Regions from separate parts of the Homo sapiens genome. Here regions 1, 3 and 4 are each linked to region 2. The links come from fine-mapping of genetic effects on gene expression. A gene starts in region 2. Each other region holds a variant in brackets. All regions are shown on one strand. Distances are from middle to middle.

The links.
Region 1: its variant is fine-mapped to the expression of ERCC6L2-AS1 in prefrontal cortex (BrainSeq, PIP 0.95).
Region 3: its variant is fine-mapped to the expression of ERCC6L2-AS1 in whole blood (INTERVAL, PIP above 0.99).
Region 4: its variant is fine-mapped to the expression of ERCC6L2-AS1 in fibroblasts (GTEx, PIP above 0.99).

The regions. Positions count from the first base shown.
Region 1 is chr9:95,970,582-95,978,691 of GRCh38, forward strand. It overlaps ERCC6L2 (ERCC excision repair 6 like 2), which reads left to right. Exons shown (of 19, transcript NM_020207.7): 15 at 1-75; 16 at 1,352-2,507; 17 at 7,480-7,634. Among named protein-coding and RNA genes, the nearest start is that of LINC00092, 47 kb to the right of the region's middle. The variant T/TTTTG (reference allele first, on the strand shown) is at 4,141.
Region 2 is chr9:95,871,972-95,880,081 of GRCh38, forward strand. It overlaps ERCC6L2-AS1 (ERCC6L2 antisense RNA 1), which reads right to left and starts at 4,006. Exons shown (of 3, transcript NR_023390.1): 1 at 3,894-4,006. It overlaps ERCC6L2 (ERCC excision repair 6 like 2), which reads left to right and starts at 3,720. Exons shown (of 19, transcript NM_020207.7): 1 at 3,720-4,113. The coding sequence starts at 4,068. RefSeq lists enhancers at 2,891-3,020, 3,251-3,300, 3,341-3,440, 3,575-4,449, 3,581-3,810 and 1 more.
Region 3 is chr9:95,925,434-95,933,543 of GRCh38, forward strand. ERCC6L2 (ERCC excision repair 6 like 2) reads left to right here. Exons shown (of 19, transcript NM_020207.7): 10 at 2,646-2,717; 11 at 3,286-3,431. Among named protein-coding and RNA genes, the nearest start is that of ERCC6L2-AS1, 54 kb to the left of the region's middle. The variant G/A (reference allele first, on the strand shown) is at 3,542.
Region 4 is chr9:95,805,612-95,813,721 of GRCh38, forward strand. It overlaps ERCC6L2-AS1 (ERCC6L2 antisense RNA 1), which reads right to left. Exons shown (of 3, transcript NR_023390.1): 3 at 477-8,110. Among named protein-coding and RNA genes, the nearest start is that of ERCC6L2, 66 kb to the right of the region's middle. The variant C/T (reference allele first, on the strand shown) is at 3,801.

The sequences.
Region 1 (8,110 bases), 99 kb after region 2:
GGCCAAGTAGAAGCAGGGATCATGACAGCCACAACATGGTTGAAAGAGGGACCTCCAGCACACAAACTGGAAATGGTATGTAATATTTGAACCTGTAGACTACAACACCTAGAAAACATGTACTGTGACAATTTTGTTTCTTTTCCTTTTTCCTTAATTTTATAACCTGTAAAAAAAAAAATTAAGAGTCAAGGACACAAAGTCAGAGGACTATGGATAAAATTAATAATTAAGGCTGATTTAACATTCATATTATAAGAACAAATTCAGGAGCAGTTCAGGCATTTACAGCTAAACTGAATTTTAACTACACCAAACTGTAAATCCAGTACCACCTAGATAACTAACCCATCCCAAATAAATAATTTTTGACTAAATGGTAAGTTAAATGGAAAAATCACCATCAATGTGTATTTAAAATTATTGAACCCAAATATCAAAATTATTCTCTAACCTGAAAGTAGATATTTGATTCCTTAATTTTGTGATCTTTTTAGTAGCTTGTCATCTCATGTACCACCAAATCTTTATTTCATCATAAGGCCATCTTAAAGGTAAAAAACATGTGTGGAAGGTTTTTTTGTTATTGTTGCTGGTTTTTTCTTGTTTGTTTTTAGAGTCTTAACTATCAATTTATACCAGTCCAATGAGTTTAAATTGGGGATGAAATTTCTATAAATTTAGAGAAATATATGAATCTCAAATATTGGCAAAAGTATTATCAGATAATACTTTCCGCAATATTTTACTAGTAGAGCCTCAGTTTTAGAAAACTAGGTTATATTTAACTCTGATTAATGTGCAAAGGTTACATATTGAATTTAAATTTGTAGCAAATTTTACTTCAAAATTCTTTATTTCTGGTGATCAAGATCCTATCGGCCTTTTTAATCAATTAGAACAATTTTCCAGTCTTGAATTCTTTACCTTGTTAACTCCTGTAATCTGTCTTATTCTTAAAGCGTGATTGGAAGCATCTGCTAGATGACAGTAAACTCCAGTAATTCTTAAGCAGTAAGTTGTATGCTTTTCACTTTCGAGGCCAGAATTATGTGTCCTTGCATCTTAGAAGCCAAACACTCCACTTTGTGTTTTTCTTCAAAATACTTTGATTATATGGTACTCTAGTTTAAATTTTTTTATTTTGCAACAATATTCAACATGGAAAGAGAAAAGACTACCAGACTATGATATTAAATCCTTAACATTTGTTTATTAAATGTTGTACTTTTAGAAAATATTAAGTGATATACTTGTACCTAAATTACCTGCCCAAAGTTGAGTACTTTTCAGTTGATTCCACATTATATCTTGAGGTTTTCTGATGTTTTTGTCATTGTTTCTCCTATAGCCTAGACAGCCTGACTGTCAGGAATGCAGAGGTACAGAACAAGCTGCAGAGCCACTGGCAAAGGAAGCATGTGATCTCTGCAGTGACTTCAGTGATGAAGAGCCAGTGGGAGCCACAGGAATAAAGACTGCCAAAAACAAAGCACCCGATTCAAGTAAAGCTTCCAGCTCTCCAGGACAGCTTACCTTACTCCAGTGTGGTTTCTCGAAATTGCTTGAAACAAAATGTAAAGCAGTTGAGGATAGTGATGGAAATACTGCCTCTGATGATGAAAGTTCTGATGAGCAGCCCACATGCCTTTCAACAGAAGCCAAAGATGCTGGTTGTGAGAAAAATCAGGACTCTCTTGGTACTTCAAAACATCAGAAATTAGATAACATCCTAAATCCAAAAGAAAAGCATATTTTTTATAAAAGTGAGAAGATTTTAGAACAGAATATTTCTTCCAAGTCTGACGAGAAAAAAATTAAAAATACAGATAAACATTGCATTTTACAGAATGTCACAGAATCAGAAGATAGTGATGTCATCTGTCCTACACAATACACAACTGAGAGATTCCCCGACAATAGTATAAGGTTTAAGCCACCCTTGGAAGGATCTGAGGATTCTGAAACAGAACACACTGTAAAAACAAGAAATAATGATAATAGTCGAAACACTGATGACAAAAGAAATGGAATAATTTCAAAAAAGTTAAGTCCTGAGAACACAACCCTGAAATCTATTTTGAAAAGAAAAGGCACCAGTGATATCAGTGATGAATCTGATGACATTGAAATTTCTTCCAAGTCAAGAGTAAGAAAGAGAGCTAGTTCATTGAGGTTTAAGAGAATAAAAGAAACCAAAAAAGAACTTCACAATTCTCCCAAAACAATGAACAAAACAAACCAAGTGTATGCAGCAAATGAGGATCATAACTCTCAGTTTATTGATGATTATTCATCCTCAGATGAGAGTTTATCCGTCAGCCACTTCAGTTTCTCTAAACAGAGCCACAGACCAAGAACTATAAGAGACAGAACTAGTTTTTCTTCAAAATTGCCTAGCCATAATAAGAAAAATAGCACTTTTATTCCAAGAAAACCAATGAAATGTTCAAATGAGAAAGTTGTTAATCAAGAGCAGTCGTATGAATCAATGGATAAATTTTTAGGTAACTAAAGACACATTCTCAAAACTTTAAAAAGTATATTTGTTTTATCAAATAGTTCTGTGAGACGCTTTGAATTAACTTGTAAAACAGCCCTAAAATCAAGATGCTGCATTGAGGCACAAATAAGGAACGGTTGGGTAGCAGGATAAATGGGAGACCACATATAGGTCAAGATAGAGAATGTTGCCATCTACCCCAGGACCCCCTCCATGTGCCCATCTAAATCACAGTTCCTCTGCCCCCATAAATACCAATTATTCTAGCCTCTATAGTAATTACTTATTTACATTTATATGGTTTTATCACCAAATGTGCATCCCCAGGTGAATTAATCTGTTTTCATGCTGCTGATAAAGACATACTTGAGACTGAAGAAAAAGGGGTTTAATGGATTCACAGTTCCACATGGCTAGGGAGGCCTCACAATCATGGCGGAAGGCAGTGAGGAGCAAGTCATGTCTTACATGGATGGTGGCAGGAAAAGAGAGAGAGCTTGCAGAGGGGAACTCCTCTTTATAACACCATCAGATCTCATGAGACTTATTCGCTATCATGAGAACAGCATGGGAAAGACCTGCCCCCATCATTCAGTTACCTCCCACCAGGTCCCTCCCATGACACATGGGGATTGTGGGAGCTACAATTCAGGATGAGATTTGAGTGGGGACACAGCCAAACCATATCACTAGGTATTATGGTTCAGTCTCATCCATTTTGTAAAAATATTATATAGTCTTTTTTAATCTACAGGAATCCTCATCCCTTTCATTGCCTTACAATGTAACTATGGAAGTACCTGGACCATCTCTTACAGAGTTTCCCTCAGTTTGCATTTTGCTAATTGTACCCTCTCCATGCAGTTAAACATGTTCTTCTGTCTTCTATATTACCTGCAAAAGAGCAGTTGGTTCCTGAGACTGGATCAGACTCAGGTTCAGTTCCTTTGGCAAGATATAAGTTAGTGTTTAACAAGACTATAGTAGGCACAAAATGTTTATTCTCTCTCTTTATGATCCTAGCAGCCATTGATACTTAATACCTATACTTATTTATTCATTCAGAGTAGCAAAATATTTTCTCTTTCTTTCGATTTCATTTTCATTTATTTAGAATGCTTTTGTAAAGAGGTACTTCACTACTTCCCTTCATTATTGCTTACCCAGTGGCGCAGTTCATATGGGAGAGACAGGAAAAATGCTAATTGCTTTCTTTATTTACCAGTTTTTAGTATTAAACTAAATATGTCTATATGCCATAAGGATGACCCATTCTTTTCTTAGTAATTGATTCAAACACATTTAGTGGGTCTCAATTCATTGCAATTAATAATATTATTAAGGCTCCATTGTCCTATCTGTGGATAGAGGGGAATCTCTGACATGAATATTTTGGTTCCTGAAGCATTTTGGCATGCTGCTAGTCATTTTGGAAGCTTCCTTGTAGTCTAGTCTTACAAGAGGTTCCAGGAACACCTCATACATTTTCTGTCCCAGACCTACAATCAGTCATTATTCCAAGAAGTCTTGGTTTCTTTTAGAGAGAAAGTGTGTTTCAAGACCACAGTCTGGTGCTAGTAATGAACATTGCTACTGTTGACTTGGTTATTATTTTTGGGCCTTTTCAGTGGCCAGAT[T/TTTTG]TGTGTGTGTGTGTGTGTGTGTGTGTATTTTATATTTATACACATATATGTGTATGTATACGTATATTTGTGATATATATTTTATATATGTATGTACACATATGTGATGATAAAATACCTCGAGGTTATACGTCCATATTTGTATTGATACTTAATTTGAGAGTATAGAGCTCTTATTTAGCCTCTTTATTATATGTGAATACCATTTCTACAATATTGATAATTCTGGTTCTCAAGCATATAGGGAATGATTTACTTTTAATGCCCCATGTTTGCTCATTTGCTTTATCCCATATTACACAAAGAATAAAATAACAGTACTACCTCCATTTGATTGCTGGTAACATTTAGGGTTTATCTGTTTTTGCCTCTACTCTCCCTTTTCTTCCATTTTAAAAATGGATATACTATGTCTTCATTGTCAAAGATACATTGCATTGTATACTACTCCCCTCTTAGACTTCACTTAACTGTTGGTCCACAGGTAACTACACATTTCATGCTCCCCATCAGTCCTTAATGTCAGTCTTCCTCGCATCGTTCTGGTTGTCTGAATCTTACTGTCTAGTAGATTGCTCAAGAAGTGTTCATGAGAATAATATTCCCTGAGATTCTTGCAGTAACAGTTTTGTGCCCTTATACCTAAAAGTTTTGCTGGATGTAAAATACTTGGCTCACATTGTCTTTTCTTGAGCATCTTAAATATGTAGCTTTGTTTTCTTCTGGCATAAAGTGTGGTATTATATGTTCTTTTTTTTTTTTTTTTTGCCTCTCCCTGGATGCCCAGGGGGTTTTTTTCTTTTCATTGTTGTCCAATAATTTTACTAGCTTGTGTCTTCATGTTGGTTATCCTGGGTCCATATTCTGATATACACAGTGTTGTTTTCACTCAAATTTTATTTTGGGAAAGATTTGCTTGTACCAGTGTTTTTAGTTACTTGTTCTATTCCTTTGGTTTGGCTTTCTTCTTCAGGGACTTCTTTTCAGATGTTCAGTCTTCTTTGCCTATCTTCAGTTTTTGTCACATTCTCTCAAATCTTTATCTGTTCATTTTGTTTTGCTTTTTTAAAATGTTGTTTTGTTTCTCTTAAGGCTTATCTGTTGTGTTTATTCCCACTTATGTTCCTTCTAGTTTAGTCTTCATTTTTGAAATTTAAAAAAAAATTTCTAAGTCTTTCCTAAGTTCTTATCACTCATTTGAGTTGCTCTAATTCTGATTTACGTTGATTCATGTCTTTTTCTGTTTTGTGAGCACATCTTTCTAGCACATTTTCATTGAAGGGATATTACTCTGCTTGTTCTCTTTTTTCTCACAATAATTTTTTTGAGATTTGACCCTGCTGCTTTTCCCTTGGTCATTTTTATATGAAATTATTTCCCCTGAATTTTACAAATGAAGCAGAGCTTAGGAAATCTTTTCTCACCTCACAGAGATCCGTATGTTATTTCCATGTAGAGTGCTGCACTGTGGTGGGCTTTCCTCTCGCTCTCTCTCCCTTGCTTTGCTCTAGGTCTTTTCTTGCCCTCATCCTTGTTCTTCCTATCCTACTTATTTTGATTCTCTCCCAGCAGTTTTTCCTCTTTATTGGGCCCTGACCTGGGTGGGAGCCCTGGTGGGTCAGTTTGGGGAGTTCTAGTGGTTGGCCTGCTCCAGCCCCTCCAGGCCTTCTTACTGTGTCCCCTCTGCACCCTCTCAGCATTGAAGAGCAACAAACCTTCCCAGATTCAGCTGCTGTTCTCCAGCTGGCCCCTTGTGCTTTCCGGTGAATACCTGTTGGCAGTTCTGGGGTCTCCTGTTCTTAGGTCTGTCAGGTACCCTGTTGCTTCCTACTTTCACACAGATACTGAAACCATGCAGAGTTCATAGCTAGTGGAGATTTTCCCCACCTGCTTGTACTTTAGGTGTCATGAGGGTATCTTGTTATCTAATTTTGTTGTAAATGTCCATGGGCTTTTGGTTTTGCTGTCTAGTTGCTGTCTGCTTTTGTGTACAGATTCAGAGATTCTCCTGCTTCTTCTGCTGTTACCACCCTCTGCCCAGAATCTGTATGGTGATTTTAAGAGTTAGCATTGCCTTCACAAGTGTCTGACTTATTCCCCAAAAACTATATGAAAGAAGCTGAGATATAAGCAAGGACATTTTGCTATAGAAATCTTAATTTTTGTGTTTGATTATATACAAATGAGGCTTTCTTTGTGGCTATTAGCATTCTCGTTTAAGAGTTAATTATGATTTATATCTTGGTGTCATTATAAATAAGTACTGAATTACCCTTTGGTTGGTGTGCTACAGTTAGATTTTAGGTTTGAGGAATTATTGCATAAACTTTTTTAAATAATCAACTCAGTTTTTTGTTTGTTTGTTTTTACTGTGTAAAAGGTGTCAGTAGTTAATTTGGAACTAATGCTATTTTGAATAATGGTAACGTGTCATCAAAATTAAGAAACATCTGAGTAAATTTTCTGCCATGAAGGTTTTGAAACTGTGTGCCATGTATAGTACCTGGTATTCTGAAATGAAGGAGAATGTTATGCTAGTTACTGTCTCATCATATTATTTAACAATGTTTTGTGTTTGCATGATTGGCAATTTCTGATTGAAGAGGTTCAGGACTAAAACAGCACAATTGTTGAAGGTCATACCTGAGGTTCATTGCCAGAGCTGTTGCAGGGAGCTTTTACAGGCCTTGGTTCTAGCTTTCTCTTTTATGATCACAATTCAAAAATGAATTATAGGTGCCTAGAAGCAAAGCAATAAAAATTGTAGCCATTTTTTAAACCTCTTTCAGATAAAAGCCATGAGTTAATTTTTTTCATTTCCTAAAAAGCTCTCATCTTGACATTCTCTGGGCATATGTACAAAAAAGACAAAATACAAACAGTAAAACTGAGCAAAGCCAATCAAACGAAACTCCCTGGTCATAAACCCCATGCTCTCATTCCATCACTGTAATCAAGTACATGTTTAAAGGAACAGATAAGGTTAGTTTCATTCTTTAAATTAGTGAACATCTTTTTTTTTTTTTAATTAACAATGAAAACAAATTCATAGAGAGGACCCTACTCAACCCTGACTTTTCTTTTGGCCAAAACCTCCATTTCAGGTTTAAAGATTGTTACCTATCAGTAGTTCTCATCTCACATTGATGAGAAGGAAAAGTCATTTCCAAGGTAACCCAGACTAACATATTTGAACTCTTTCTCTTTTCAATATTTTTCCTAAAGAATATTGTGATGTTGATGTTTCTCTTGAGTATTAAAAATAAGAATAATGTGTTTTTATGGAACCATATTGCTTTATACTGATACATCACTTAATAAACATAAATTACCTCCTAGATGGCGTTCAGGAAGTGGCTTATATTCACTCAAACCAGAATGTAATTGGATCGAGCAAAGCTGAAAATCACATGAGCCGATGGGCAGCACATGACGTATTTGAGTTGAAGCAGTTTTCTCAGCTGCCTGCTAACATAGCTGTTTGCAGTTCTAAGGTAAGAAAAATATAGGGTAGTATCATCTTTAGTTACCTCATTTTTCACAGAAGTTACTCAATAGGATCTTCTCTAAGTACTCCCTCAAAAGTAGCAACAAAAACTGTAAGTGACATACAAATAAGTGTAAAAATCAAAACACCATTTGGGAACTGTAGTCATTGAAGACGTTTTAGATTAAACAACAAATTTATACCCAAATACCTAATCATGTTGAGTTGCTTAATAGTTTCTCTCAATAAAAATTGGCCAGTACTCCCAAAATGAAAAGGAATCTGAGGGAATCATGTAGTTCAATCAGAACCAAAACCATTTCTGCTTATATGGAAAAAGGAAAGTGTGTGATTAGGTTGCTCCACAATTTTTCACCTAAAATGAAGACCAACATAGAAAACTCATTTCATATAGAATTTATATTTTTAGCAAAAGGGTTTTTATACTGTTAAAAGTCATAAATACTTCCTATGGGCTCTTCC
Region 2 (8,110 bases):
ATTTGAGTCTATTTATTGAGTCTATGAAGTAAAAATGGTGTTGGTGAATATTCAAGGTGTAATGATATTCATTATATGGGACCATGATATACTTCTAACACTGACTCTATATATCTTTCACTATACCTCATTCAAGCCTCAAATTTTCCTTTCTTTGGCCGGAGCTTTTTTGTTGTGTTTTGCTTTTTAAACTGTGATAAGAAAGAACATATTATATAAAATGTACCTTCTTAACCATTTTTAAGTGTACGGTTTAATAGTGTTAAGTATGTTCACACTGTTGTGCAACGTTGAGTTTTAAACTTTAAGATTTAGGTTATTTGTGGCAAGGAAGGACAGGTCTATTTTATCTTCTTTCTCTTGCCTTCACTCATCTTTGCTTCCTTATTGGCTGGAACGACGTATGAAGGGAGAAATGCTGCAACCTAAAATCATCTAACTAAAACTCAAAAGACTTAATTTCTTGTGTTGTCTTAGAGTTTCATATCTATTTTTTTCTGGAGCCTTTTTGCTAGATTAACTCACAATTCTGGAGATCTGTCAACCACATACAGATATATATTTGACTTTTGCAGTGTGAAGATAAAGAGAGACTATTTTTTGGCAAATTATTGGTGGGTTTAATCATCCTTCCATGAGCCTGTTTTGAAATGCCTGTGTTATCACCATCTGTGTTATTTTTTTCTCTTTTGTAGTTTTAATTGGCTTAATTTTTGCTAGATCCTCCTTTGCCAAAAGTTTTGTATGTGATTCAGTTCATTCATGTGATTTATCCAACATCACACATATTAACTACAGGAATTCCTTAATATTTTACAAGATATTCAGTTTAACTTTGAAGTGACTGGTCTGACAGCGTTAGATGTTCACAATATCAGCACCTAGACAAGGATGTCAATGCAAAGACAAAAGCTACTGGGGGAAGGAATATTTGAGAATGTCTAACTTTATGAGGCAACTAGTTCACTAGGACATATTTTCATGTCATGATTATTTCTGCTTCAGTATACACTGTAAGTACAGCAGTGAGGTTAAATAATAAACACTCAGAAAATGAGGGCCGGGCGCGGTGGCTCACGCCTGTAATCCCAGCACTTTGGGAGGCCGAGGCGGGCGGATCACGAGGTCAGGAGATCGAGACCATCCCGGCTAAAACGGTGAAACCCCGTCTCTACTAAAAATACAAAAAATTAGCCGGGCGTAGTGGCGGGCGCCTGTAGTCCCAGCTACTTGGGAGGCTGAGGCAGGAGAATGGCGTGAACCCGGGAGGCGGAGCTTGCAGTGAGCCGAGATCCCGCCACTGCACTCCAGCCTGGGCGACAGAGCGAGACTCCGTCTCAAAAAAAAAAAAAAAAAAAAGAAAATGAGGTATCCTCCTCTTTTGTTAGTCACAAGGGTATTCCTTCAACCAGATGATACCTCCCATTTAAATCAAAATTTATTTCTGAATTTGCTTATCACTTCTATTAAGAGGTCTGCTCTGTCAAGAGCTACATCTTAACTCAATGGACCTCTGGAAAAATAAGACAAAATTACACAACTAGTCATTTCAGAGAGGGGAAAAAAATCAAACTTCTTCCCTGGTAGTTGTAGGGGAAAAAAAGAAGCTTGATTAAAATTTCAATTTGCCATTTTGATTTTAGAGACAATGTGAAAAGAGATATAATCCATCAATAACAAGCAGCAGATTTTTCTAGATTTTAAGATTTCCAATATCAGGGTGCATGTCAGAATCAAGAATTACAATTATAATTAGTAGTGTTTTTCGCTGTGTCGCCAGATTAGAGTGCGGTGGCGCAAACTCGGCTCACTGCAACCTCTATAGACCTCCCGGGTTCAAGCGATTCTCCTGCCTCAGCCTCCTGAGTAGCTGGGACTACAGGCATGTGCCACTACGCCCAGCTAATTTTTGTATTTTTATTAGAGACGGGGTTTCACCATATTGGCCAGGATGGTCTTGATCTCTTGACCTCATGATCCGCTCACCTTGGCCTCCCAGAGTGCTGGGATTACAGGCATGAGCCAACCGCGCCCGGCCTATTAGCCAAAATATTAAACTGACATAATGGCTATGTAGAATGCAACTTTCAAGTGGATGCATTCCATTGATAATAATAGTAATAACAACACATATATTCCTTACTATGACCAGCTACTGTTTTAGGAGTTTTACTTAATTATCTAATTTTTTACAATTACCATTTTTAGGTAGTTTACTATTATTAGCTTCACTGTAATGGTGATAGGTGAGTACAATAAAACACGGAGAAGTGATCTGGCCAACAACTCACACATAGATGGCTGAGTTAGATGTTTCACTTAGGCTTAAAGTTATTGCCTGCTGGTAAGCAAACAAGTCATATTTTAAATGAAGCATTTTATGAACACATACTACTAGTTTTTAGTATCTGCCATAGAATTGAGATCTATTTGCAAACAGCCATATTGTTTTCTTAAGACACTACTGTAGGCAGAATAATGATCCCCCAAAGATGTTTATCTCCTAATTTCCGGAATTCGTGAATATATTAGCTTACATGGCAAAAGGATTCTGCTGATGTGATCAAGGGCAGAGACCTGGAAATGGGAAGATGATCCTGGATTACTCAGGTGAGCCCTCAGAATCTTTTCCAGCTGCAATCAGCGGTAGACTTGAGGATGGAAGGTTCAGAGAGATGGCATATCACTGGCTTTGAAGATGGAGGAAGGGACCAAAGCCAAGGAATGTGGACAGAAGCTGGCAAAGGCAAGCTAAGGATTGTCCTGTGGAGTCACCAGAAAGGAGTGCAGCCCGGGTGACACCCAGGTAGCACTTCTGATCTACAGAACCGTGAGATAATAAATGCATTGTCTGTCAGATGATAAATTTGTGCTGTTTCAAGCTACAAAGTTTGTGGTTTTTGGTTATTGTGGCAATAGGGAACGGATACAGGCCCTGTCAGGTATTTCACTCAATCCATGAAATACCTTACAGTATACAAATTTTAACATGCGCGGGAGCCACTTACGGATCCGTCTATCTGTGCTGCCTGGGAGTGTCAAGAGGCCGTGTCCTTCATTCACCTCGCGCGTGGGCGGCGCTGCCCTGAAGATGCTCCCGGGCTCAGTGCAGACGGCTCAGCGTTCTCTCGCGTTCAACGAACCGCCAGAAACGTCAGATGGTACGGAGGAAAACACTTTACACTTTAACAGTATTTTTACGTTTATTTGCAGCAAATGTTGTTGGCTTTGTATTTAAAGTATTTATGACTCACTATAAAGTGTAGGATCCAAGAAAACGCGCTAGTTTCACTTGGCCCCCGTGGCTGTCCCGGGGAGCTCTCCAAGGAAGGACTGGTTCCTGAAGTTCCTGGGGTGCTGCACCACCACGGAAGAACCAAGCTCCACAGAGAAGCCAGAAGCCGCGACCGCGGGGACGCTCTCTGCCAGGCCTCCACCGCCTCAGCGGCCCTTTACAGCCACCGCATTCTCCATGCCCCCAGTTATTTCTAGCTTCGCACAGCGCCCGGCCCACCGAGCGACCTCAAACCTCGCGACACTCGCAACTCCCGAGGCCCTTCCTGCTACTGGCCTCAGAGGGAAGAGACATCGGGAAGATTGCTCCGCCCACAGAAAGGAAGATTTCGTTCTCGCGAGATCCCAATGACAATTCGGGAGCCCGTTCTCGCGGGATTTTCCAAGACCGGGTTGGAATTTGCGGGGGTTAGGAGACGGAAGTCAGAGCCTAGGAAGATTTGGGGGTCGCCTTGCCGGCCTCCTGTCCTCCTCCGGCGGCGGCGGAGCCCGAGAGAACTAGGTGAACACCGCTTTGCCAGCCTCACACAGCGTCCCCTGGCTCTGCCGCCGCTCCGGACGTCGCCCTCCCGTTCTGCTTGGGTCCCCTTAGTCGCTACCTTTGCTGGGATCCCCCTCCTCCATCCTGTGGCTTCGGGTTGCCGAAGAGCGATGCTCGGAGGGCGGCCGGAAGTGGCGTTGGCCGCCATTGGCCTGCCGGCCAGCCACCTTGCTGTCCTCCGCCGCCTTCCGGGTGTTACATGCAGCCGGGCTCGGCCCCTCCCCCTGGCCGGATGGATCCGTCGGCGCCACAGCCCCGCGCGGAAACCTCAGGCAAAGGTACCAGCTCCGCGCTCGCCCCTTACGCAGAGGCCTGTGTACTGCGTCGCGTTGGACCAGTTCTTGCCGGTGCCCTTCGGGTTGGGGTTTTGCCCTGTAGATCCTCTTCAGTGACAGCTGCAGATTGTGAACCCCTCCAGGCCTGGAACCAAATCTCCGATTCAGTGTTGAGAACCTGGACTCGGGAGTCAGCCCCTGGGATCTAGTGCTGCCTCTGACAGTTACTTGCTGAGCAACTTTGGGCAGGCTCCTCATCTGTAAAACTGGGTTCATTACTAGGTTCTTGCGATTATTAAATGACGTGGGGAATACGCAAAGTATTTATGTGACCCCGCGTGTGGCCCATATTAAGCACTCAGTAAATGTTATTTTCATTCTTTATTCTTGTATGCCCCAGTTGTTAGTGAATGGCAGAAGTTTGTTGTAAGTAGATAAATGAAGGTTGAGATATTTAGTTCAGTTGAGTTTTATTGCCTATTGAGTCAGGGCATTATATTCTGCCTTAAATAGGAGGTTTAAAGAAGGTGTGATTATCTACCACAAGTCACCTGGGATGCCTTCTGGCACCCAAATGAGTAGTTTTCATTAATAATTGTGCTGTATAACAAAAGCTACCAGGTATTGAGTGATTTTCCTGAGCCCAGCAATATGCTGATTGTTTACTTGCTTTCCTTTGAGGAAGATATCGATCTCATTAAATAGATGAATTCAGAGCTAAAGTTCAGAGAGGGCAAGTTACAAGCCTGAATTCTGAGGTCTAGGAATTGATGACGCTGTAATTCAGGGACCAAACATATAAATACCTATAGGAGACTGGCAGCTAAAAATAGATGAAGCTGCCGAGTGGATATTGTGACTGGGAGGCTCATTCCTTTTGATAAATCTAGTCACTCTTGGTATTTAGGGAAATTGGTGGAAGGAGCAGAAAGCTCCAGGGCCCCGAGGTGGGAACACCCTTGAGGAATGCTTGAGGAGGCCTTTGGAGTGAAAGAGGGAGAGAGAGACCCTATCACCAGAATGAGTTGAGTTGGTAATTAGTTTAAACCAAAACAAATGATTTCGACTCATTAAATTTTAGGACACTTAACCCATTTCCCTGTTAAATCCAACAGGAAATCTTAACAATTTAAGCAGTTGTTCTGTAGTTTGGATACTGAGAGATTCCATTTCTAACTCAACTGAATTTATTTCGTCCTAGAAATTATCCGAACTCAAACCCAAAATACTCCAATAAGTTGTGTGATTCCCTTAAGGCTTTTTTTTTTTTGCACATGCTGTACACTTATCTGAGATACAGTTCTTAGACCCCTTTCCCTTTTAAATTACATTTCTCAATACTCCCTTCTCATAGCACTCTTCTTCCAATGCAGTTTTTACAGTTATGTATATGTTGGTGTACTTTTTAGTTTTCTCGCAAGATATCAAGGATTTGTGAGATTGATAATTTGTAATAGGCCAGGCGCATGGCTCACACCTGTAATCCCAGTACTTTGGGGAAGCTTAGGCGGGAGGATAGTTTGAGGCCAGCCTGGACAACATAAGCGAGACCCTGTCTCTACTAAAAATAAAAAATTTAGCCAGGCATGGTGGTGCACACCTGTAGTCCCAGCTACTCAGGAGGCTGAGGCGGGAGGATGGCTGAGCTCAGGAGTTGGAGTTTACAGTGAGCTATAATTGTGCCATGACACTCCAGACTGGGCGACAGAGACACTCTTGTCTAAAAAAAAAAAGAAAAAAAAAAGAATGTGTAATAAATTCGCATGTTCACTGAATGTCTGCTGTGTGACTCTGTGTTGGTCCTGGGGATAAAATTTATAACAGTACAAACTTTTCTTGGAAAGGAAATTACTCTCTACTGGAAGGAAAAGACAAAAAACCAGTGGACATGATAATTAAATGTTATGATAAGTGCTACAGAGGCAATAAAATGATGAGATAGAGAATAATGGGTACCCTACGCTAAATAGGTGGACTGGGAGCAGAGAGACTGGTTAGGCATAATTTAGGGAAAGTTGATGGTGGCATGCTTTAAGACAGAGGTCTGCAAACTACTGCCTGTGGGCTAAAACTGGTCTGACACTTTTTTTTGTAAATAAAGTTTTATTGGAACACAACTGTGCCCATTTGTTTATGTATTGTCTGGTTGCTTTTGCATTACAAGGGCAAGAGACTGTATGGCCTACAAAATCTAAAGTAACAAATAGCTAATAACTGACTCTAGAGAAAATGTTTGCCAGCCTTTGCTTTAGAGAGATAGTGGCATGGAGGAAAGTGATTCATTTTTGAAGTAGAACCAGGATATTCTGATGGATTGGATGTAAGGAGTAATATTAAATGAGGTTTAAGGGCTGACTAATGGTTTTCTACCTTGAAAAGTTGGTTAGATGATGATGCCAGTTTTTTGTTTTTTTTTAAATGCCAGCTTTTTTTTTTATTATACTTTAAGTTTTAGGGTACGTGTGCACAATGTGCAGGTTAGTTACATATGTATACATGTGCCATGCTGGTGTGCTGCACCCATTAACTTGTCATTTAGCATTAGGTATATCTCCTAAAGCTATCCCTCCCCCCTTCCCCCCACCCCACAACAGTCCCCAGAGTGTGATGTTCCCCTTCCTGTGTCCATGTGTTCTCATTGTTCAATTCCCACCTATGAGTGAGAATCTGCGGTGTTTGGTTTTTTGTTCTTGCGATAGTTTACTGAGAATGATGATTTCCAGTTTCATCCATGTCCCTACAAAGGACATGAACTCATCATTTTTTATGGCTGCATAGTATTCCATGGTGTATATGTGCCACATTTTCTTAATCCAGTCTATCATTGTTGGACATTTGGGTTGGTTCCAAGTCTGCTATTGTGAATAGTGCCGCAATAAACATACGTGTGCATGTGTCTTTATAGCAGCATGATTTATAGTCCTTTGGGTATATACCCAGTAATGGGATGGCTGGGTCAAATGGTATTTCTAGTTCTAGATCCCTGAGGAATTGCCACACTGACTTCCACAATGGTTGAACTAGTTTACAGTCCCACCAACAGTGTAAAAGTGTTCCTATTTCTCCACATCCTCTCCAGCACCTGTTGTTTCCTGACTTTTTAATGATTGCCATTCTAACTGGTGTGAGATGGTATCTCATTGTGGCTTTGATTTGCATTTCTCTGAGATGATGCCAGTTAATAAGATGCAGGAAGACTATTAGTCACCATCATTTTTGACATTAGTTTTCTTCATTTTATACCCATTGTGTGGTATAATATTTGGTGAATAATTTGTGCTTAAATCACATATGTTGAATAATAGATAATAAAATAAGTCTTAAGAAATGATAGGGTAGGCAAACACATAATGGGAAATATAAGTAATGTGTTAAGAATTGCTGTAAGGGTTGCTTTAGGTTTTAAGGTGCAAATAGTACTGTTATGAAAATTGGGCCCATTGACCTATATGTTGTTCTACTTGTACAGTGGATCGAGGCTTTAGTTTGACATTAAAACACTCTTTTAGAATGGTGTAACAGTTGTCAACAGTTTGGGTCCAGAGAGTAGAGTGGGAGAGAAGGTTTTTCCCTCTGTACTCATTATTGTTATGGTAAAATAACCTCATCAAAGTTAGTGGCTTTACTTTTAAGGAACAACTGATGGATGAGGAATTTAATGAGCTATTCTTGCTTTAGATAGTATAAACATGTCATGTTGTAGTTATAAATATCTAACTGGAGGTCATCAGGAAGACCCTAGGAAACTGCCAGTGGTTATCTGATCTCAGTGAGAAATGTATAGGAAAAATAATTCCTAGTGTTCTTATGTTTGTAGCCATAGAATTATTTTTGGATTCTTGCCATAAGAAATTCCATTTGGAAAATTATTTTTACTTAGTTTTCTTTATTTGATACTTTTTAATTGTACCAATAGTATACTGTGGACTCCCTCCTCATTCATAGTGGTATATTTTCTGGGAAAATAAAATAGCTGTATGGTTAGTCACAGAATAAGTTC
Region 3 (8,110 bases), 53 kb after region 2:
CCTTGCTGTTAACACCCCCAAATAATACGATTCCTTTATAGGTGGATTGTCTTGTTCTGTGGAGGACAACTGAGTGATAAAACATTGGGTCTATATTGTTAAGACTCCAACATCTGTTGATTACATTGTCATTTTGGAAATTTCTGGGATCTTAATTTATAGTCGTTCATTTAGTTAGTCTCTTTAAACTAGCCTAATTAAGATCTCCAGTCTAAAAACATTTACTTTTCCTGTGACTTGTTTTTGTTTTTACTGTAAAATACTTGAAAACACTTAAAGTTGCAATAGTTATGATACCACCCCAAATAATGAGAATGGATTTCTATACAATATATCCTTGGTTTAAAATGTTAATATCTTAAGAATGAAAAACAAACCACAGACTGGGAGAAAATATTAGCAAAACAATAAAGGACTGGTTTACAAATATACAGGTAACTCTTAAAGCTCAACAATGGGAAAGCAAACAATCCAATTGAAAAATGGGCAAAGGATCTGAACAGGTACTTCCCCAAAGAAGATAATAGAGATGGCAAATAAGCATGTGAAAAGATGCTCAACAACATATGTCATTAAAGAATTGCAAATTAAAACAGCAAGGAGATACCACTAGATACCTATTAGAACGGCCAAAATCCAGAACACTGTCAAGCCCAAATGTTGGTGAGGATGTGGAGTAACAAGAACCCCCATCTGCTGCTGGTGGGAATGCAAAATGGTATAGTCACTTTGGAAGACAGTTCAGTGGTTTCTCACAAAGCTCTTAACTAAAAAATATTACCTTAAATAGTCTTACTATATGATCCCGCAATTGTGCCCCTTGGTATTTACCCAAATGAGTTATAATGAATTAAATTTTATTGAGTTTTAATGAGTTAGAAACTTACATCCCGACAAGAACCTATGAGTTTATTTATAATTGCCAAAGCTTGGAAACAACTAAGATGTCCTTCAGTAGGTAAATGGATTAAAAAAGCTGTGGTACAGCCATACTGTGGAGTACTATTTAGCAATAAAAAGAAATGAGCTATCAAGCTACCAAAAGACATGGAAGAACCTTAGATGCATATTGCTGAGTGAAGGAAACCAGTCTGAAAAGGCTACATACTGTATAATTCCAACTATATAATACTATCAAAAGGCAAAACTATGGAGACAGTAAAAAGAACAGTGGTTGCTATGGGTTCTGGGGGAGGAAAGAATGAGTAGGTGAAGCACAAGGAATTTTTAGGGCAATGAAACAATTGTGTATGATACTGTAATGGTAGATACATGTCATGATATATTTGTCAAAACCCGTGAACTATGTAACACAATGAATAAACCCTAATGTAAATTATGGACTTTAGCTAATAATAATGTATCAATATTCACTCATCAGTTGTTACAAATAAACCACACCAATACTAATAATACTTGATGTTATATTTTCTAATAATATTATTAATACAGATATTAATAAGAGAAAGTGTGGAGGAGGTTGGAAGTAGGGAAAGAGGAGTTTTGTGCATTTTCTACTCAGTTCTGTAAAACAGAAAAAATAATATCTACCAATTTAAAAAGTCTTATGTGAAATTCAAATTACATACTTCATATAGAATCAGTTATTTTATTAAAAAATGAACTAAATGCAAATAAAACTTCATATGTTCTCCAAATGTGAAAGTAATGTTTACCCGATCCATAACATTTTTATTTACCATTTGATAAATAAATTTGGTTATCTGAGTAGAAGTTTTTTTTAACTCCATAGCTTTTTTTGAGGGACTAGGGGGAGGTAGAGGTCAAAGTTAGCACAATAGCTTCTCTTGATTGAGTAAGTGTTATATTGAGTATTTTTTTTATTTAAAAGCTTAAATGTTTATCATTAAATAAATTGTTTTAGTGTTTGTTTCATCTTTCAGAAGAATTTAGACTTTGTATAGAAAATTTCTTTTTCCCCTCTGTGGATTGCTTTTCCACATTGTTCTGGAGCTGTCATTGCCAGATGTGGAAATAAAAGTAACAGTGTGACTGTTATACACAAGGCTTTGGACTGTTTGTTTCCTCCCTGAAAGCACTGTGTGTGGGGGCAGATTACTGGCATTTTGAGGTCAAAATCAAATCTGGAAGTCAGAGCTTACTGTAAATAGAGAAACAAAGGGGAGAAAATGAGAAGAGGTGTGTATCTGACTGATTATTCTAAGAAAATAAATATCAAGACTTTTAGAACCTAGATGTAATTGAACACATTTCATTACATCCATCTAGGGACAATTTAAATACTTCCTAAAAGGAATGCTGCTCTATAATTTAGTTTCTTAGCATATTGTAGGTATAAAGAAAGTGTATTTTGGAAATTAAATTAATCCATTTAAATGCATCCCATAATCCAAAATGCTTCCTTTTTATTAAAACCAGATGAGATGAAATAAAAGTCTTTGGGAACTTTACCTCCTTATTGACAATATGATGATGAATAACATTTGATGTAATAGCTAATACTTTATTTCTCTAACTTGGAAAAAATGAAAGGAATTAGAAAAAATGAATGAGGTTAGTATTGTATGAAAATAATTTTAAAGAAATTCTCAAGTGATGTTTATATGTATAAAGTGTACTTTTAGTTGGAACTGGTTCACTGATTTTCTGTGGTTCATTTTCAGGTCCTTCAGCAGCTTTTAAATCATTGCAGGAAAAACAGAGATAAAGTTCTTCTCTTTTCTTTTTCCACCAAGGTGAGTTCATCTAAAGTATATCCTTGATTGGCCAGCCTCAACTTTTGAGGCATAAAGAATAAAGCATATGCCTACATGACACCTTACAGCCACATTTTCTCTTATCTACACAGTAGGAAATAGTGAGGTAAGCAACTTGAAGTTTTTAAACAGACACTAAAATTTCAATTGTTTCAGGGTTGCTAAATATCAAACTCAAAGATAGATTTTTATTTTCTGTTGATGTTCTTAATAATTACAATGTTCTTTAAGACATTTCATATATTTTAGAACTTAAAAAATAGCATGCATATATTTATGTAAATGATTTGACCAGTAATATTGTTTGTTTCTTAAAAATGAAAAGATTGATTTTTAAAACAAGTTCTGAATGTTAAAGCCATAATGTTGCAGGATAACGGGAATAAATATATGGGTCAGAAGTGAGAAAAATATTTATTGTTCTTGGAATTATAAGAAAGAAATTATGAACACCAATAATTAATACTTAACAAGTCTCAACTTTGTAATGGTCTGAAACTTACTTAACCAAGATTCATGTTTGCCCATCTTCATACCTCTCGTCTAGTTGCTTGACGTGCTACAGCAGTACTGTATGGCGTCTGGGCTTGATTACCGACGACTTGATGGAAGTACAAAATCAGAGGAAAGACTCAAGATTGTAAAAGAGTTCAACAGTACACAAGATGTTAACATTTGCCTTGTCTCTACAATGTAAGAAAATTAAATTTAATAACTAGATTTTTATCCAATTGTTTTTGAGATTTAGCATAATTTTTAAAACTATTACTGGATTAATTTTTAATGGCTATGCTTATTTAGAA[G/A]CAGCAAAAATACTATTATGACCGAAATTTCAATGTCTTAAGTTTTAGCTAAGCTTTTCTCTCATTTCCTTTATCAACATTGAATTCCTCTTAGAAGTCTGGGTTTATAAAGGTAACAATAAAAAAATTGATACTTCCTCCTATGAATTTTCCATGGTAGTGTTTTGACCCAAGTCTCCTGGTGAGAATAATCAGACTTCTTATTAACTGGATAACTGAGACTCACTGTAGCAGCAGTTTTCCCACTGTGTCAGGGAGCCCTTGAGAGCCCACTGGGGCTAGGGGCTCACGTTTCCCTCCTCTGCCTCTACCTCATCTCAACTGGAGCAGCTCTGCAGTTAGAGTTTTTATGAAAGGTAAATTGGTTCTAACCCCTATGTATGAATATCCCTTTAAGACCTTTTAGAGAATATACACACTTCTGAAAAGATTTAAATCAACATAAACACCTAAGTAAGATTAATCCCATTTTAGGAAGGAACAGATCAATAACTTTTGACATCCTGTGTAATAAGAATTTTATAGATTCACTCCCACTGTCTTTCAGAATTTCAATGGACTTTAAAAATAAACATATATAAAATGCACAAAGTAAAAATTAAATCAGAATAGAAATTAACTTAAAATGAGGAATAAAATATACTTATGAATGAGCCAACATTGTTGAGCACTTTAATTATTCTTGAATTCCTACCACTAAGGCAAATGGGGAAAAGCTTTGGATTCCCATTTTCCTATAAAGGAATGCAAGAAGTAATTTTTTTCATGCGTCCTTACATACAGAGCACTAAATGACATAGAATACTGTGGTCAATTAAATTTCATAAAACATATAAGCATTCTAACTTTAAAGTGTTTCCAGTTGATAGATGCACTAAACAATGGTTCCAATAATAGACTCTATAATGACAAGCAGTAGTCTCTTATCCTTCTTCTGCTCACTTCCAGCTCATTTGCTGAGATCCTCCATAAAGTTCCTAATTACCCCTTCACCTCTATCTGTCAGAAACTGCTATTTAACCTATCCATTGAATTTTTAATTTTAATCATACTTCGAAAAACATCTTTTTGGATGGCATTTTTGCTCTATTAACTCCTGTACTTGGTGGTGCTGATCCTTCTATTTGTTGTTTCCTCTGGCTCTTGCTTATGGTTGATAGTTTCTTCATGTTTGGTCATTTTTTTTCTTTTGAGCTTATCTTCAATGGGATTTTTTTCCTCTGGAAATCCTTTGGAGACCGGTTGTAGGAGTTTTCTGCTTGTGTGGTTTTGCTTTGGCTTCTGCTGGGCATCCTGACAAGACAAGGGAAAAAGTTTTGGATTCCTATTTTTCTGTGACAATTTGAGTAATTTATTTCATAAGTCATTATATAAGGAACCTTATGTAATATAATAAATACATTCTTCAGCTGTGTTTTGCAAAAGACACATAAGCTCAGTTTTTGTTTAGTTTCTATCATTTTGCAAGGGTTTATATTTAATATGTTGTGACAGAAATGTTTTCACATTGGCTTAGCCATTATCTTGCCAGAGTACAAAGTCTTCATTATCTTTTAGTTTATCAACTTTACATAAGTTGGAACTTCTCTTAAGAAAGATGATTAGGCTACTTTCACTACTCTCTCCCCGTTTTTTTCTCACAGTGTTTGCTATTTTAAAATTATTTGTCTATAAACTACTTTTGTAACTTTCAATCTTTGTACTTCTGCATTAGATCCATTGAATTTTCTCTTAGATCTTTTTCCTGGATCCCGTGTCTTCTTCTTTCTTGGTTTGCCGCCATGTTTTACTGGAAAATGATTCAAGTTTTGATGTTTGGTCCATTAACTTTCCACATGCCTTCTAAGTCTTTGTAATGTGTGGTATTAGCATTAGCACACACCCACCCACCCTTCTACTTTTGTCACCTATACATATTATGTTAACTATTTTAACTTTTACTTTGTCAAGGGTATTAATGTTTTCAATAAGCCCTGTACCAGTAACCGGTTATTGTCCATAGGTTGGCATTAAAATTTGAAGGCAAAAAAGCGTTTACATTACTATGTTTTTATAAACTAAACATCTTTAATGCAGGGGCAAGTAGTGCTAAGATAATTTTTCTTAATGTTCACGACCTTTTGGTCAATGCAAGATCAGTCTTAACATCAACCTCATATGACTTCTCTTTCCTAAGACTTCATCCATGTTTTATGTTTGCACTGTTCAGTTCACTTCAAATTTCAATCATGACTTTTTCGGTCTTTTCCCCCTCTCAGTCTGTTTCTGCCCTTTGTAATAATCCTCAATGTTACTAATTCTCATTCACACATTCTCTTCTGTTGAGTCCTCTGTATCCTGAACCTGCCTCCTGAAACTTTTATTCCTTAGTTTCAATCTGGCCCAGTTTTCTAGGCCTGATAAAGAACTGTCATGTTGAAGCTTTCTTTCACTGCTCTTCTGTGTTGGATCTTTTTCCTGGGTTCCATGCTGTTTTTATTCTTGACTTGCCCCTTTGTTTTCCTAGGAAATATCCTCTGGTAACTTTTTAAGCCAGAATATATAGGAAGTAAATTTTCTGCATCTGTAAATACAGAAAATGTCTTTTATTGCTCTCTCACTTAATTGATACTTTGTCCAACTATATAATTCTAAATTGAAAATCATTTCCTCTTAGATCTTTGAAGGGCTTGCAGCATTGTTTTCTGATAGATGGTGTGGCTAAATAGATGTGCAGTGCCAATCTGATTTTCATTCCTTTTTGGGAACTCGTAAGAGTTTTTCTTCATCTACACTATTCTAAAATTTCACGGTGATATTTGAGTCTTGGTGTGGATCTTCGTTCATTTTTTTGTGCTGGGTACAGTAGGCTTGTATTCTGAAGGCTTATGTTCTTTTTCAACTCTGGAAAATGCTTTTTTATTATTTCTTTAACAATGGCCTTTTTTTTTTCTTCCTTTTTCTCTGCTCCCTCCCTCTGGCATGCCAGGTCATCAGACTTTCAAACTTTCAAACTATATTGGTTCTTTAAATCTCTGAACTTTTCTCTCAGACTTTGTCTTTTTGCTCTGTTCTGAGAAATGTCATTTTTCGATCTTATTATTTTGTTTGAAATGATCACTTTTTTTTTTTTTTAAGACAGTGTCTCACTCTGTGGCCCAGGCTGTATGGTGCAATCTTGGCTCACTGCAACCTCCGCCTCCCGGATTTCAAGCAATTCTCCTGCCTCAGCCTCCCGAGCAGCTGGGACTACAGGCCTGTGCCACCCCACCCAGCTAATTTTTGTGTTTTTAGTAGAGACAGGATTTCACCATATTATCCAGGCTGGTCTTGAACTCCTGACCTCGTGATCTACCTGCCTCGCCCTCCCACAGTGCTGGGATTATAGGTGTGAGCCACCATTTCTGCCATCACATTTTTAATCTAAAGTTTTTCTTGCTTTCTGACCTCTTTTGTTTTTGGAGTTACCTTTTGTTTTAGAACATCAGTGTGTTAAACTCTAGCTTTTTATAGTCATTTCATTCAGTTTATTTAAAGAATGATCATCTGGCATTTTTCCTGGGGTTTGTTTTTTGTTTTTGGAGAATCAATGAATTTATTAATGAGTTTGAGGAAAATTGGAGTTTTTAAGGTATGAAGCCACCCTATCCATAAACATGGTATCTCTTTATATTTATTTAGGTTTTCTTAGAAGCATTGTTCAAATGGATACTTCGTTTGACCTTTTATAATACTTAATACATAATAATAAAACTTATTTCATCAAAGACATGTTTGTAGAACATTAAGATGTAGTTAAGGTGTACTTTCTGATATACTTATTTGATACAGGAAGAGCATGTGGCAGACCTAAGGAATAAACAGCCTGCATACTCATTAAGTGTCTCAAATACCAGTCCTCAGTTCGAAAAGAGCAATATTAAAATTTTTTTTGCTTAACAAGTAACCCTTTGCTGTTAACCATGTAAGAACAGAGTGACAAGTTTTAAAGTTTAGGTTTCTGAGTTGTATTATCATCAAAGGGAGAATTATCTCATCTGCAGAGAGAGAGAGAGTCTAGGGCCTTTTTCTTCTTCTTTAAAGGGAGCTTTGCTTCTTCAGCAAGGACTGAAGTTATTACTTCAGAATCTCTTGGAAGATTGCTACCTCAACTAGTAGAGATCTTATCTGTGGCTCATATATGGCATCTGAGATGGCATCATACATGGTTATGCCTGACCTTGCCATCAAGAAGGTAACTGGAACAGTTGATTAGATTTATTCAACATAGAAACCTTTAACTTCGTTTCTGCTTTTTTGCTGTCTAAATTCCACCCAATCCCCTAACTTATCCATTTTTTTAATCCTTTCTAATACTTTCTCCCTATCCCACCTCATTCTTTTCTTAGAGTTCAGTCAAGTCTCTATGACATCTTCATGGTATGTCTAATAAGCAGTTTTCCAAAGGAGAAAATTCAGTTTCTACTGAGCACTGAACTTTCAATCAGGACATTTGGGTTTGAATCGAGACACTTGCTACTTAGGAGACCTTGAACAAATTAATTTTTGTGATTGTCAATTTTCTCGCCTGAAAAATCAGGATATTTTGCT
Region 4 (8,110 bases), 66 kb before region 2:
AAGAACTCTTTCAATTTGATATGTGAAATAGGCTGGCTCTGGGATCCAGTTGAGTTTGGGTATAGAAAGTTGTTTCAGGGCCGGGTGCGGTGGCTCACACCTGGAATCCCAGCACTTTGGGAGGCCGAGGCGGGTGGATCACGAGGTCAGGAGATTGAGACCATCCTAGCTAACATGGTGAAACCCCGTCTCTACTAAAAATACAAAAAATTAGTAGGGCATGGTGGCGGGCGCCTGTAGTCTCAGCTGCTCGGGAGGCTGAGGCAAGAGAATGGCGTGAACCTGGGAGGCAGAGCTTGCAGTGAGCCGAGATCACGCCACTGCACTCCAGCCTGGGTGACAGAGTGAGACTCTGTCTCAAAAAAAAAGAAGGAAAGTTGTTTCAAAGTGTGATAAACTAGAATTAGGACTTTACAAGGCTAAGAGAGAGAAATTTCAAAAAATGTTGATGCATAATGATTTCAGGAGAAAATACATTAAATGTGCATAAACTATAGACAGAATTTATTTCCAAGTGTTTTTCTTTGATTGTACATATTTTTTTCAGAAACTTTTGTGAAGTTTAAAAATTTACTCAAAGATATCATGCTTTGCCACATTTGTAAAGAAATACTGCCAAAAGAGACATTTTAAGATGCTGAATTACAAACGCATACTGCATGTTTTCATGAGGTAGTTGTTCAAGCCATTCTACATTTCCTGCCCTCTACCTGATCATTTTGATTCAATGGTTAAAATTAGTTGAACGCAGCCCTGAGCATTCAAGCAATACACAGTGCCATTTTTTTCTCCCGTAACCTCAGGCCGCACTGCAGATAACGCAAAGCATACACGCTCCACTCAGACTTGTTGATTAACTGATTGATTATAAAGCAGGCTAGAAGTTCATTCTGGTGTATATCACTCCATAAAATTAGTGATCATCTCAAAAGTGATTCTAGTGTGCATTCAACAGGGCCTAGGCAGTAATTCGCACTCAATTTGAGGTTTTTCTCTGATTAAAAATAGACTTTTCTGTCTTCCTTGAAGTTGAATTTCAAAGACAAGTAGCTGTGGTTGGTCTGTAAGAAGGAAGCCAGTCAGTTAGATTTGCATTTGCGACTTAGGAAGGACTTTCGTGCCTGATGGTGAGGGAAAGGGGATGTGGGGGTGTGTTGGACAGGGACAATGGGCTTGCATGAGGCCAATGGTTCTGTAAGTTTTCCAAGAGTTCTAGGATATTCAAAAGCATTTTCTTCCTAGCAAATGATGCCTCAGAGGGTGCCAAGTCTCACCATATTTATTCAGACTACTTGATGTGAGTCACTTTGGGAGACAACTTCCAGGAAGAATATTTTAACAATTTTTTTGTAGGAGTTGACTTTTGCCACAAATGCATTTCAATTAAATATACCCAAATATTTGCTGAGGAAATACCCGGTCAGGTCATAGTGGAGTCTATGCATTTCACACCAACTCCATCACTGGTCATATTACTGAAGTTCTCTCCGTTACATCAGAATGGCGACTCATTAACTTTTATGAATTTTCTGAAAAAGATTTTCCTCTCTCTGGGTTCTTATGAGTCTCTTTGGAAACTTGCTCCTGAATTTTATCCCTCTCTTCAATGCTAGCTTAGTTTTAACACCAGTTCAGATATATTTGAAGTAGGTTGCGGGCTTTTACCCTCCATTGCCTATTTTGGTCGTGATAAACTTAGTATTTCTGTTTGTACCAACTCTTGCCCCAGTCCTATTTCCGTCTGCTGCAAGATGTTGTGGATCTACATCCAAAGTGAGAATTTGTTTGGCCCGATTGTGCTTGTTAAAAGCCCTGAAAGTTGGTGTGTTTATTGTCTTTTGACTTTGGAGACTCCAGGCTCAAGTACCTCCCATGACCTTTCGTTCCTGTGTATCCTTGTATGTAAACAGCTTTGCAGCAGCAAAGCTCCAGCTCTCTGTGACCTTGGCAGCAGGGCAGTGAGCAATGGTTTCCAGAGCAAAGTCTCTTTCTGAATACATTTTGCTCCACATCTCCTGGTCCCAGTAGGGTTGTTTTCAGCACCAGACATGTCATTTCTCCTCCACGTGATCTTATTTTTAGACGAGCATCTTCAAAAGAGCAAGCTGGAAGATAATTTGCATGCATCTTTCCATCATCTTTCATTTCTTGTTTTCACCAAGTATAAAGACTCTCATTTTCTCATGTCTTTGGGGTATGTCTCTATGTTTAGCCTCCTTTCAGGAGAAAGATATTTCTACCTTATTCAAATGGCTTTTGACTTAGATCTTTCTATCTTCTCAAATCCCAACATCCTCATCCTGAATCCTTAGGAAAGGTGCACAGCTGGTTTCTGCCTTCAAACAGCAGTTTTTGAAGAGAAACGTTCCCCTGATTTCCACCCATTGCCTGCCTGCCCTCCAGCTCCCAGCCCAACAGCTGCAGGGCAGACCACGTCTGAGCAGAGACCCGGCAGGGACTCCAGAAGGGGAAAGACCTTGTGCTTGGGGTCAGGGCAAGACCCAGAGGACATCTACCTTTCTGAACACCATGGCCCCTTCAGTAGGATGCCTTTGCAGTCTGAATGTGGCTTCCTGGGAACTATTTAAAACCTTTGCCTTGGGCCATTCTGGCTTTTTGCCCAGAAAAAAATGCAGATTAAGGGAAGAAGTCCAGAATGCAGCAAATAATACTTCAGTATTGTCCCATTTAAGCATGTGTTTTCCCAGTATAGGATTGTTCACTAATCATGTCTAACCATGGACAGTCCTCATCTGTCCATAGTCTCACAAGACTACAAGGTCCGCCTGCCCCAGTAAATGTTTGTGGGACTTAGAATCTCAAGAAGAAAAAGTATGAAATATATAAGTGGCAAAGTTAACAGAGTTTACAGGAAGAGATCAACACTGGCTAACAGGAGTTGGGGAGGCATTTTATACATGAGGATGGGATAGCTGAAGGGTGGTGAGAGTTTGTGAATAGAGGAGGGCAACCTAGGTTTCATGAGCCAAGGTGTAAATTGGTGGGCAAGCTCTTGGGGATAGAAAGAGCAAAGGCCTGGCCTGAATGGAGGGTTTGTGTGAGGGAACATGGGAAAATCATGTCTAATCCCAGAGTTGTCAGATTCGCAACATATTGACAGTGGTTTCTATTCTCTGTCTCCTTTTAATTCTCTTGCATTTAATATTTAGATGGGATGACTTTTGTCTGACTGCATTTCCCAAACCTCCCCGCTTCCAACCACATAAATCAAAGCAAGATTAGATTTTGGATTTACTTTTCTGTATGTTCGGCCACTAGAATCCTCTAGATTTTTCACACATAGGAGTTAAACCCAGGGATTGTCCATAGCCATGCCACAGATCACTGGGGGCATGAAAGACTCTTCTAGAACCTGAGCCTGCCCAAAGCCAAGTCCAGTAGCAGACACCATGTAAATGACAAATGAATATCTAGAATAATCAGGTTAGGTTTGCCTTGCTATCATTATCATATATCATATTCCCAATTTCTACAGCTGGATCATTTATCTTTTATGATCAATCACTGCACTAAACCAATGTGTTGATAATCATTTTTTTCAGGTATCTTTACTGTTCAGATTGTTGGAACATGTAACCAGCAAGAATATGAGGCATCATTTACTTTCTTAATCTCTGGGCTTATTTAGCCATTCACAAATATCAGGCTCTTTTAAAAAATATTGGTAGCCTCTAGCAGTTAGAAGGAGGTGAAGGTCTAGGTCCTTTCCCTCCCACTACCTCACCAGGACTTGTTTTTAAATGAAAGCAAGTCTCAGACCAAATTCTGCCTCATACACA[C/T]GAACATTTATTGGGAGGTAAGTACAAAAATAGCCATGCAACCTCCTCCTCTCATTCTCTTGTCTTTTTAGGTACTTTGGAAAGCATCTTGCAGGAAATATTTACTTTGTTGTGGTCACAACAAAATTTTAACATCAGAGTAGGTGACAGAGATGACATAGGTGGCTCTCCATTAGGTGGGGACCATAGGACAGAATTCTATCCATAAAGAGAGAGAGATTCTGTCACTCCAAAGGTGGTCAGCTGCTGGGTTTGCCAGATCAAGGGAGGAGGTGCCAGTGGAAGTCTCTTCAGCCAACTACATGCCTTAGCATCACTCATTTCTTCAAAGAAAATTTCCTTCTAACAACCCCTGTGATAACAAATAAACCCTCTAGGGCAGATGGAGAAGGACTATTTAAAACCTTTGCCTTGGGCCATTCTGGAACCTAAATTAAGATTAGGGTTTGTGAGTCAACTACTTAAACTCACACAGTTTTTCCTCTGCTCTTACGTAAAAAAAAAAAAAAAAAAAATAGTGAACACAGAAGACTTCAGTGACAAAATGTGGGGGTTTCCCCAGACACCAAGCAGAAGACACAAGCTGAGTGTCTAATTCAATTCAATTCTGTGGCTCATGCCTGTAATCCCAACACTTTGCGGGAGGATTGCTTGGGGCCAGGAGTGTGAGACTAGCCTAGCCAACATGGAGAAACTCTATCTCTACTAAAAAATACAAAACTTAGTCAGGCGTGATGGCATGCACCTGCAATCCCTGCTATTTGAGAGGCTGAGGCAGGAGAATCGCTTGAACCTGGAAGGCAGAGGTTGCAGTGAGCCAAGATCAAGCCACTGCACTCCAGCTTGGACGACAGAGTGAAACTCTGTCTCAAAAAAAAAAAAAAAAAAATTCAGAGGCTATCTACCTGTAGATGGCCTCAGATCCCACAGGTTAAGGGCTCAGTACCCTAAACTGATCTCCCTTTCAGACACCAGTCACAAGTTGGGGCCCCTGGAACATCTGCCCAACTGACTTCAAATTGGGGCTCCCACCACCCACTCTTTGGGTTTGATTAATTTACTAGAGTGGCTCACAGAAGTCAGGGAAACATAGGTTTACTGGTTTATTATAAAGGGTATTACAAAGGATATAGATGAAGAGATGCTTAGAGGGAGATACGGGGGAAGGGGTAGGGAGCTTCCATGCCCTCTCCGGGTGTGCCACCCTCTAGGAAGCTCCGTGTGTTCAGCTATGCAGAAGCTCTCCAAACCCTGTCCTTTTGGGTTTTTATGGAGGCTTCATTCTGTAGGCAGGATTGATTACATCATTGGCCATTGGTGGTCAACAACCTTTCCACCCTCTCTGGTTCCTGGAGGTGGGAGTAGGGGGCTAAGAGTCCCGACCCTCTAATGCTGCCTTGGTCTTTCCTGTGACCAGTCCCTGTCCTGAAGCTACATAGAGGCTGTCAGCCACTAGTCAACTCATAAGCATACAAAAAGACACTATCACTTTGGAGATTATAAGGATTTTAGGAGTTGTATGTCAGAAAATGGAGTCAAAGACCAAATATATATTTGACAAAATCACAGGGTTCTTGACATGTTAACCAACAAATGCTGACTAATCACCCTGAGGCACAGATGAAAGCAGGGTAGTTATCATCTGGTTTGCCTATATTTTAGGTTCTTCTCCCTGTAATCTTCAAAAGCTGTCCTAAGCCACCTTGAGTAAAAACCTAGCCCAGGTTACACAGTATGCTGCTGTACTCCTGCCACTTCCCTGCTGGGCCCCTGGCACCTCCCAGCCCCTCTGTCATCATAATGAGAGCACCACTATTGGATTTCTCCTAAAAAGAAATGTAAGAGCCACACGCTGGAATCCAAATTCAAACGACTGATTTCCCAGAGACCCAGAGGCAGCTCCTTGGATCCACACAGAGTAGATGCTGTGAAGCAACATCTCAGGAATGAAAAATGTGTTCCCTGAGCTGCCAGGAGTTCTGCAGGGGCAGGCCTCACTTGTCAGGCCTCTCCAGAATTGCCCAGGCTGAACACAACAACTTCACCTGAGATGACACCCCCAAGCTGTGAGTTCTTGGAGCAGTCACATTGAAAGACTCACCAATACTGGGCCCCCTTGCCACAACACTTCTGAAGTTTGATCTCAGCTCCAGAACACCCACCTTCTTCCCTGCTCAATCCTGCTTCTTTCTCGTTGCTCACAGATGTTGATCCCAAGAGTACTCCCCAATAAACCTCCTATGCACTAATCCCCATCTATGGGTCTGCTTCATACCTTCTTTTGGAACCATTTACTCTAAAACCATAGGCTTGCAGGGATGCCCACTCATCTTTGCAGCATGTGCAGTATAACCATCCTAGAAAAGTTGCTGGGAGCATCCTGATCTGGAGGGACCCAAGGTATGGCACCAAGCAGGTGTGGACTCTCTGGGGTCCAGTCCATCAGCACCGCCTCTTCTGTGGATGCCTGCATTCTGCTTCAGGACCCTGGTGTCTGGGTTTTGATTGTGTCCTCAATTGTACAAAAGATGATTTTTAAGAACCATGTCTTATATTTAGTTTTCATTTGTATTGAAGTTGTATATGCACCTAGTTGAAAGAATCAAATGATTCTGCAAAGCTGATGTGACAGAGACTGCTGGTTGAGCACTAGCATCATTCCTCACCTTCTTTAATATCAGGGCTCCAGTGTCTTAGCTGAGCACGTGGCTAACAGCTAGACCCTATGCTTCCCAGCCTCCCATGCAGCTGTGGTCCTTATGCCCACATCCTGACCGATGGATGTGTGGCCCTTCTGGGGCATGTTCCTATCAGTTATGCACATGTGCTCTCCTGACCCTGTCCTCCTTCCCTCTGGCTGGGAAGACAAAACTAGAATGGCTGCCTTAGTCCCACAGGTGGAAGCTACGTTTTGAGGATCATAAAGGTGACTTTCCAACCCAGATTGCTTCTCTTGAGATCATATCAAACAGAGAAACTTATACCTACCTCATTTAAGCTTCTGTATTTTGGTGTCTTTTTGCTAAAGCAGCTTAGCCTGTAATTTCATCCATATTGCTTGTTTAAACAAACAAACATACAAACAAACAGTCTTCTCCATCCTCTTTTCTTTTTCCCAGAAGCACCACCATATGTTTAAATATTACATTTCTATTGATATTTCATGTTTAGGCATTATCTATTTGAGTTTCCAATTTGGAAGATGAATATTTCACTGTCTCCTTCTCTCCCACCTTCACCTCAGCCTCCCTTCTCCCATGCATACTCAGCACCCACTCCTCCATATTCCAAAAATACTTATGTTGTAGTTTTGGATAGATCAATAGATATTTAGTATTTATACAATCATGATACTGCAAGTGGTATATAAAACAGTGTACGAGCCAGGCGCGGTGGCTCACGCCTGTAATCCCAGCACTTTGGGAGCCTGAGGCAGGCAGATCACAAGGTCAGGAGATCGAGACCATCCTGGCTAACACGGTGAAACCCCATCTGTACTAAAATTACAAAAAATTAGCCGGGCGTGGTGGCAGCCACCTGTAGTACCAGCTACTCGGGAGGCTGAGGCAGGAGAATGGCGTGAGCCTGGGAGGCGGAGCTTGCAGTGAGCTGAGATCACGCCACTGCACTCCAACCTGGGTGACAGAGCGAGACTCTGTCTCAAAAAAAAAAAAAGTTACGATGGATGTTTTGACTTTCTTGAATAACATTTTGTTTTCCCTTTGAACTTTTATTCTTTATATTTCCTTAGCATCCCATTTGCTTGCTATTAATTCAACCCTAAACAGTGTCCCTATTGTGTGATCTCTCAATATATTCAAACACACTGGGGATATCATTAGCTTCATCTGTTTGAAGAAATCTTCCTAGGGCTTTTTTTTTTTTTTTTTTTTTTTGAGACAGAGTTTCACTCTTGTTGCCCAGACTGGAGTGCAATGGCACAATCTCAGCTCACCACAACCTCTGCCTCTCGGGTTCGAGTGATTCTCCTGCCTCAGCCTCCCGAGTAACTGGGATTACAGGCATGCACCACCATGCCCAGCTAATTTTGTATTTTTAGTAGAGATGGGATTTCTCCATGTTGGTCAGGCTGGTCTTGAACTCGTGACCTCAGGTGATCCATCCGCCTTGGCCTCCCAAAGTGCTGGGATTACAGGCGAGAGCCACCGCGCCCAGCCCCTAGGGCTGAGTATGGTTCCCTCTGGATTGGCTGCTCACTAAGCCTGATGAGTGTGTGTCCCATCTGCCATCTTATAACTGGATATGAGTCTTGGTTCTGTGTCTTCTGATTGCCATGCAAGTCTTGCTGC